Regions from separate parts of the Homo sapiens genome. Here region 2 is linked to region 1. Evidence: fine-mapped expression QTL. Tissue or cell type: lung. Region 1 holds a variant in brackets; the other region holds the start of a gene. All regions are shown on one strand. Distances are from middle to middle. Region 1 overlaps RNF24 (ring finger protein 24). Region 2 holds the start of RNF24 (ring finger protein 24).

The links. PIP is the estimated chance that this variant, and not a neighbour inherited with it, causes the effect.
Region 2: it holds the start of RNF24, and the variant in region 1 is fine-mapped to the expression of RNF24 in lung (TOPMed, PIP above 0.99). The same link has a PIP of 0.9 or more in blood mononuclear cells.

What each region holds. Positions count from the first base shown.
Region 1 is chr20:3,951,952-3,956,346 of GRCh38, forward strand. All of the region lies in intron 2 of RNF24 (ring finger protein 24), which reads right to left. Among named protein-coding and RNA genes, the nearest start is that of MIR103B2, 37 kb to the left of the region's middle. The variant C/A (reference allele first, on the strand shown) is at 2,168.
Region 2 is chr20:4,013,674-4,018,068 of GRCh38, forward strand. RNF24 (ring finger protein 24) reads right to left here and starts at 1,885. Exons shown (of 6, transcript NM_001134337.3): 1 at 1,764-1,885. RefSeq lists a silencer at 1,392-1,991 and enhancers at 1,875-2,807, 3,011-3,612.

The DNA.
Region 1 (4,395 bases):
AACCCTAATTCCTTTTATTGGAGAAAAGTATTTAGAACTTGAGATCTGGGTGCTTGGTGAACAGCACTTTCTCTTAATACTGTTGCTTTAAAACAGGTTTTGGGGTCTGGTAGCAAAAGTCCTCAAGTTTTATTCTTTTGAATGACTGGCTTGGTTATTCTTGGTTCTCTGCAGTTCCATATAGATTTCAATTTCCACCAGAAAAAAAAAAAAACCCTCTTGGGGTTTTGAGTAAGAATGTACAAAATTCACAGACCAACTGAGGAAGAACTGACATCTTTGCAAGACTGAGTGTCTAACCTATGAACATTATTTCTTTATTTACAGCTTTAATTTTTCTCTTACACATTTCTCCTAGACATTTGGTAATTTTTGATGCTACTGTAAATAGTGTTGAAAAAAATCTTTATTTTCTAATTATTTCTTGCTACCTATATGGAAAAAAGTAATTTTTGTATATTGATCCTGTATCTGGTGGCTTGCTAATTCTAAATAGTTTCTCTGTAAAAACTTTTGGATTTTTTAATGTACACAATTATGTTGTCTGCATATAATCACAATTTAAACACTGCCTTTATAATCTTTATTTGCTTCTTTTCTAAATACACTTTTCTTTTATTCTTTTTTCCCGTTTTTTTTTTTTTGCACTGACTAGCTAGGCCCTCCAGTATGATGCTAAATAAAAGTGATAGTGAATGTCCCTATCAATACATCACTATTAAGTATGATGTTTTCTTTAGATATTTTTTGTAGATACTCTTTCAAATTTTAGAAAGTTCTCTTGTAGTACTAGTTTACCAAAAAAAATCATGAATAGGTATTAAATTTTATCAATGCTTTATGATATTATACTATTAATGTGCTATATTGTATTGATTGCTTTTCAAATGTTAAAATAACTCTCGTTCTTGGAACAAACCTCATTTGGTTGTAATATTCTACCTTTTTTGTAGATCCCTGAATTTGATTTACAATATTTTGCTGATGAAAAGGATCGGTCTATAATTTCCTTTCTCATAATATCCTTGTCAGGCTTTGAAATCACAATTATGCTGGCCTCATGAAATGAGCTGAGAAGTATTTGTTCCACTTTTATTCTCTGGAAGTGTCATATTGGAGTGGTATTTTTTTCCTTAAATGTTTGGATGAGTTACTTGGCTTAAAATATCATTGTGGGAATGTTTTAAAAATACATTCAATTTTCCTTTCTTTTCTTTTGGAGACGGAGTCTCACTCTGTCACCCAGCGTGGAGTGCAGTGCGTGATCTCGGCTCACTGCAAGCTCCGCCTCCTGGGTTCACGCCATTCTCCTGCCTCAGCCTCCCGAGTAGCTGGGACTACAGACACCCGCCACCACGCCCGGCTAATTTTTTTTGTAGTTTTAGTAGAGACGAGGTTTCACCATATTAGCCAGGATGGTCTCCATCTCCTGACCTTGTGATCTGCCTGCCTCAGCCTCCCAAAGTGCTGGGATTACAGCATGAGCCACCGTGCCTGGCCCAAAACACATTCTCTCTTTTTTTTTTTTTTTGAGACGGAGTCTTGCTCTGTTGCCCAGGCTGGAATGCAGTGGCGCAATCTCAGCTCACTGCCACCTCCGCCTCCCAGGTTCAAGCAAGTCCCCTGCCTCAGCCTCCCATGTAGCTGGGATTACAGACACATGCCACCACGCCCGGCTAATTTCTGTATTTTAGTAAAGATGGGGTTTCACCATGTTGGCCAAGATGGTCTCGATCTCCTGACCTCGTGATCTGTCTCTTTTTCGTATTAGATATATAATTATTCATATTTTCAATTTCTTGTAGTAGTTTTTTTTTTTTTTTGAGACAGAGTCTCACTCTGTCGCCCAGGCTGGAGTACAGTGGCACAATCTTGGCTCACTGCAACCTCCACCTCCCGGGTTCAGGTGATTCTCTTGTTTCAGCCTCCTGAATAGCTGAGAATACAGGTGTGTGCCACCACGTCCAGCTAATTTTTATATTTTTAGTAGAGATGGGGTTTCACCATGTTGGCCAGGCTGGTCTCGAACTCCTGACCTCAGGTGATCCCCTGCCTCAGACTCCCAAAGTGCTGGGATTACAGGAGTGAGCCACCATGCCCGGCCCCGGTTTTTTCTTTTTAAAAATTTCATTCTTTTATTTTTACTCACATTACAACTAACCGCCTT[C/A]AAGTATACAATTCAGTGGTAAGTAGTGTACTCACAATGTTGTCCATCTACCAGCTATCTCTAGTTTCAAAATTTTTCATCACTCCAACAAAACACCTGGTACCCCATTCACTGATCACTCCCCATTACCCCTTACTTCTATCCCCTGCAACCTCTTATCTGCTTTTTGTCTCTATAGATTTGCCTATTATGGATATATCATATAAAAGGAACAATGCAATATATGGCCTTTTGTGTATGGCTTTCCACCTAGCATGTTTTTGAGGTTCATCCTGGTTGTAGTATGTATCAGTACTTCACTTCTTTTTATGGCTGAATAATATTCCATTGTATGTACATACAATTATCCATTCATCTGTCGATGGACATTTGGGTTGTTTATACCTTTTGGCTATTATGAAACATTTCTGTACACGTTTCTGTGTGGACATATATTTTCATTTGTCTTGGGTATATACCTAGGAATGAAAATCTGGGTCACATGGTTTAATATTTTGAAGAACTGGCCAGGTATGGTGGCTCATGCCTGTAATCCCAGCACTTTGGGAGGCTGAGGCAGGTGGATCATGAGGTCAGGAGTTCAAGTCTGGCCAACATAGTGAAACTCCGTCTCTACTAAAAATACAAAAAATTAGCTGGGTGTGGTGGCAGGCGCCTGTAATCCCAACTACTTGGGAGGCTGAGGCAGGAGAATTGCATGAACCTGGGAGGCAGAGATTGCAGTGAGCCGAGATCGCGCCATTGCACTCTAGCCCGGGTGACAGTGCGAGACTCCATCTCAAGAAAAAAAAAAAAGAATTTGTTTGAAGATCCACCAAACTCTTTTTCACAGCAGCTGCATCATTTTGCATTTCTACCAGCAATATATGCAAGTTCTTATTTCTCCACATCCTCATTAACACTTGTTATTTTTCTGTTTTTGATTACAGCATCCTAGTAGGTGTGAAGTGGTATCTCATTGTGTTTTTAATTTGGAATTCCTTAATGACCAATAATGTCAAACATCTTTTCATGTGCTTGTTGGCCATTTGTGTAACTTCTTTGGAGAATTGTTTAAGTCTTTTGCCCATTTTTAAATTGGGTTGTCTTTTTGCTGTTAAATTTTAAGAGCTTTTAATATATTCTGGGTATTAAACCCTTATCAGATAGGACTTGTAAATATTTTTCTCCCATTCTGTAGGTTGCCTTATCACTTTCTTGATGTCCTTTGATGTACAAATGTTTCGCATGTTAATATCCAGCTTCCCAGTACCATTGGTTGAAGAAACAATTCTTTCCCCATTGAATGATCTTGGCACCCTTATTTGCATATCAATTTGTCATAGATGTTTGGATTTATTTCTGGACTCTCAATTCTATTTTATTGGTTTATATGTCTATCTTTATACCAGTACCACAATTTTTTGATTACAGTAGCTTTCTGAAGTTTTGAAATCAGGAAGTGTGAGTCCTTCTATTTGTTTTTCTTTTTCAAAACTGCTTTGGCTATTTGGGGCCCCAGTTCCAAATGAATTTGAGGATTGCTTTTTCTATTTCTGTAAAAAAAGGCCATTAGAATTTTGATAGGGATTGCACTGAATCTGTAGATTGCCTTGGAAAATATTGACACTGTAACTATATAAAGACGATATAAATCCATGAACATGGGGTGCCTTTACATTTATTTAGGTCTTCTTTAATTTCTTTCAGCAATGTTTTGTAGTTTTCAGGGTATAAGTCTTTCACTTCCCTGGTTAACTTTATTCCTTAAAATTTTATTCTTTTGGATGCTATTGTAAATGGGATTGTTTCCTTTATTTCCTTTTCAGATTGTTCATTGTTGATGCACAGAAACACAACTGATTTTTGTGTATTGATCTTAGACTCTGAAAGTTTGCTGAATTTATTAGTTCCAGTAGTTTTTTTTGTGTGTGTGTGGATCCTACGGGATTTTCTCTGTATAGGATCATATCATCTGCAAATGGAGATAGTTACTTCTTTCTAGTTAGATGCCTTCTATTTCTTTTTCTTGCCTAATTGTTCTGGCTAGAACTTCCAGTACAATGCTGAACAGTAGTGGTAAAGTGGGCATTCTTATTGTGTTCTGATCTTAGGGGAAAGCTTTCCGTCTATTACCAGAAAGTACAATGTTAAGTTGTGTGTGTGTTTTTTTTTTTTTAATAAATGCCCTTTCTTGTGTCAGTTTTGATACACCTCTTTTTTTGTTAGGAATCTATGTAATTCACCCA
Region 2 (4,395 bases), 62 kb after region 1:
AGGGTTTCACCATGTTGGCCAGGCTGGTCTCAAACTTCTGACCTCTGGTGATCCACCCACCTCGGCCCCCCAAAGTGCTGGGATTACAGGTGTGAGCCACCGCACCCGACCCATAATAAAAATACCTTGGAGGTGTGTTTCTTGTAAATGAGTGGCTAATTTCCCAACACCCTGTAAAAGTATATGGGTAAAAAGAAACTGAAAATCATCATGCAACCAGAGTTAACAACTATCTTGCAAAATTCATATCATTTGTTTTAAAACCAAAATAGCAAGGAAGAGCTGGTGTTATCCCAATAGCCTCTTTTTAATTGGTCTACAACAACTGCAACTCTTCATAACTTTACCAACACAACAAAGTCAGGCAGGCAGTCTGACAGAGTCAACGTTTGTGGGAACCTACAGCGCTTCCTTCTCTCTCTGGAGATGAGGACAATGAAAAAAGGTGTTCTGTTTTCCAGTAGTCCTGTAAGAGGAGCCATTGAGCTGGGCTGTACAACCAGACAACAGAACACAGGAAAATTCACATCAAAGCAAGGGCGCATGCCAGGGTAATATGCAATAAAACCCTCTGCCAAAGCATTAAGGGGAAAAAAAAGCAAGGAGGTAGAGAGAACCTGCTGGACTACCTTCTCATTAACACAGGGAGGCAGAAAGAAACAAAATCTGCCTGTATTCAGGAGCGGAGAAAACTGTGTCCTAGATATATTGGAGTATTCCTATAGACATGTTTATGAGCATTCGGACAAATTATCAATGAACTAAACCCAGAAAGCAGTGTCCTGTACGGTGGAGTATTCCTATGTAGACAGACATGAGAATCTTACCATTAACTAAGCCCAAAAAGGCAAAGTATTCTAGAAACACAGATATATGAGAATTTAGATGCACATTTCCAATGAATAAAACCCACTGGTTTTACAGTGAGAAAAAACTGTTTGAAATAACATCAGGTAAAGAATTGGGTAAAGGTGTGATGAAGTTATATCCCCTCCCCTTTTCCTCATACCCTTTTTGACAATCTCTGATTCTCTCATTTCATAGATGTCCCTTTCACTTGAATGCGCACACACACACACACACACACACACACACACACACACATCATTAGGTCTCCAGAAACAAAGGAGGGTCCTTAATTCTCCGGCCTGTGGAACCACACACGCCCCCTGCCCACAGATGGTGACTTTCATTAATGAGTAAGCCGAGGGAAGAGGTCTCCACCCCGACCACTGCCATGCACACTGTGACAACGGGGCACGAGACAAGCGCCACAAAGAAAGGGGAGGAGTGGACGGGGACCAGGAAAACACTGCCACGCCGCACCCCCCAAGGCGCGCGCCCACCGCCAACGCGGGGGCAGCGTCCTCGCCATCCTCCTCCTAGCCTCCCAGCTCATCCCAGCCGCCTCCCACGCCCGGGGACCCGATGCCAGGGCTTGGGCGAGCAGGACGTGCGGGGGCCCACGCACCTTCCCTCCGTGATCTCCAGGTGACAGCCCCGCTCCGCCCTTTGTGAGGGACTCACCCTCCAGTCCCGGGGCCGCGCCGGACCCTCCTCCGCGTCCCTCCTCAGCCTGGAGACACCGCCTCACCCCTGCACACCGCGCCCGGCCGGCCGAGGCGCCGGGAGAGTGTGTGTGTGTGGGAGGCTGGCGCGGGCCCGCGGTCTCCTCAGCATCCCGAACCCGGAGCGGCTCGGTCCCCCAAACCCCAGCCCGGGGGCGGCGGCCGCGGCGCTCCCGCCCTCGCTCGCTCACTTACTCGGGCGCGCCGGTGGCAGCGGCAGACGTGCGGGACCGTCAGCGCCCTGCGGCGGGCGGCAGGCTGCGGGCGGCGAGCGTCCGTCCGGACAGAGCGCGGCGGAGGTGGCGGCGGCTGACTGCGCCCGGCGGCCCCTCGCGAGGGGCGGGCCCGCCGGGGGAGGGGCGGGCGCCGCGCCTCTCATTCATGCAGCGGGGGCGGGGTGAGGGACCCGGATGCCCGGGCAGTTTCCCCACCCACCTCGGCGGAGGGCTCGGCGGCTTCAGAGTCTGCAGTGCGCAGGCGCGGCGCTCCCTGGCCAGGCCTGGTGCGGCCCTGGCCGCTGGCTCTGTTCCTGGTTAGAACTACGCCAGACAGGCCGGGCGAGGTGGCTCACGCCTGTAATCCCAGCACTTTGGGAGGCTGAGGCGGGCAGATCACGAGGTCAGGAGATCGAGACCATCTTGGCTAACGCGATGAAACCCCGTCTCTACTAAAAATACAAAAAATTAAATTAGCCGGGTGTGGTGGCGGGCGCCTGTAGTCCCAGCTACTTGGGAGGCTGAGGCAGGAGAATCGCCTGAACCTGGGAGGCGGAGCTTGCAGTGAGCCGAGATCGTGCCACTGCACACCAGCCTGGGCGACAGAGCGAGACTCTGTCTCAAAAAAAAAAAAAAAAAACAACTACTCCAGACAGACCTTCTCCATCGACCGTTTAGTATTTTTGCGTGCCCTACAAGCATTTTTAAAAGTGAAAGCATGGGGCCGGGCGCAGTGGCTCACGCCTGTAATCCCAACACTTTGGGAGGCCAAGGCGGGTGGATCACCTGAGGTCAGGAGTTCCAGACCAGCCTGACCAACATAGAGAAACTCTGTCTCTACTAAAAATACAAAATTAGCTGGGTGTGGTGGCTCATGCCTGTAATCCCAGCTACTCGGGAGGCTAAGGCAGGAAAATCTCTTGAACCCGGGGAGCGGAGGTTGCAGTGAGCCAAGATCGCACCATTGCACTCCAGCCTGGGTGACAGAGCAAGACTCCGTCTCACACACAAAAAAATGAAAGATTGGAATGCCACCCCTTTCCTAGCATGCAGATTGACAGTCCCCAGAGACACAAGAATGGTCACGTGGTGCCCATTGGTTTGATGGGGAGATGGTATGCACCGCACCCTCCTCCATCTGCCCCTCCTGCTGCAGCCTCTCAGCTGAGTGCTAGAACCTTGGTGATGGATGAGACCTAGACTCTGCCCAGATAGTGGAGAGAGGTGTGTGCAAGAAACAGTGCATTCCTTTATTTACATCCACTCCTCAACCTCCGGCTCCCATTCTACAGGGCAGGCAATAAATTGACCTCCGATTTTGGGAGGCTGAGCTCTTCCTGCAATACCAAGGCAAGGATCTGGGGAGTCCTCTCTTGTCTTTAGCAGGCAGTGTATTCTGCAGATACTCTCTTGTTCCCATCGCCTTGTGTCTGCCACTCCTGGGGTACGGAAGTTTCTGGAGAGGCTAGGAGCCTGCAGAGGGAATGGCTGTGAAGCTCCACAGCTGACTGTGTGTGCGCTGCAGCTCAGAGCTTGCAAAAATGATTGCCCCCTCTTCCTCAGTCTCCATGTGTCCCCCAGAAGTTCTCCTTCCTTCTCCTAATCTCTCAGGCCCCATCACATAAACCATAAACAGCTCAGTAGCTTAACTTTGGGAAGCAAAAGTCATCATGGCAAGCGCCTAGAGGCATGTTCCTTCTGCTTTGGCAAACCATTAACCACCAAGGCAGGGAGGAAGTAAAGAGGGAAACATTAGTGAATTTCTCAAGAAGTCACCTGCCACCCAATGGTCACAGTCCCCCAAAGTGAGAGAAGGGTGGAGGCATGTGCTAGGGAGACTGTGGCAAAAGGAAGGGAGTGGGAGACCCAGGCTTCCTCTAGAGCTGCCTGTGCCAGGGCTGTGCTGGGGGAACACTGCCCTCCTTGCTGTCAATCATAGCAGTTACCTGGAGGGTCTTTTCAACTTTGCTTTGCTCAAACCTCTCACTGTTCTAAATCAGCCCCCTCATCTCTCCCCTGGGCTGTTGCAGAAGTCTCAATCCATTCTCATGCAAATCGATTCTCATGGTATTCAAATCTGCCTGTGTTTCTGTCTTTTTCTTTTTCCCTGCCCCATCTGGCTCCTTGAGCCTTATTTTCCAGCCATTTACAGAACAGCACCATGGTGTTTCACCTCAGTAGTCACCAAGGTGACTGCTGTTTCCTGCTGTTCCCCTACTAGGAAAGCAATACTTACCTAGCATGCAAAAGTTGCTCTTTTCTCTGAAAATCCACAGATGCTTTTTAGGGCAGTGAAAATACTCTGTGTATGATACCATAATGGTGGATACCTGTCATGACACATTTGTCTAAATCCATAGAATGAATAATACCAGCAGCAAACTCTAATGTAAACATGGATTTTGGGTGATAATGATGTGCCAATGTAGGTCCAACAATAGTAATAAATGCTCCCGTGGGAGAATGTTTATAATGGGGGGGCTATGTATGTGTAGGGGGGAAGGGCTAGTTGGGAACTCTGCACATTCCTCTCACTTTTGTGGCAAACTTAAAACTGCTCTAAAAAAAAGTAAAGTATTTACAAAGTCATTTTTGATAAAGTATTTTTTTCT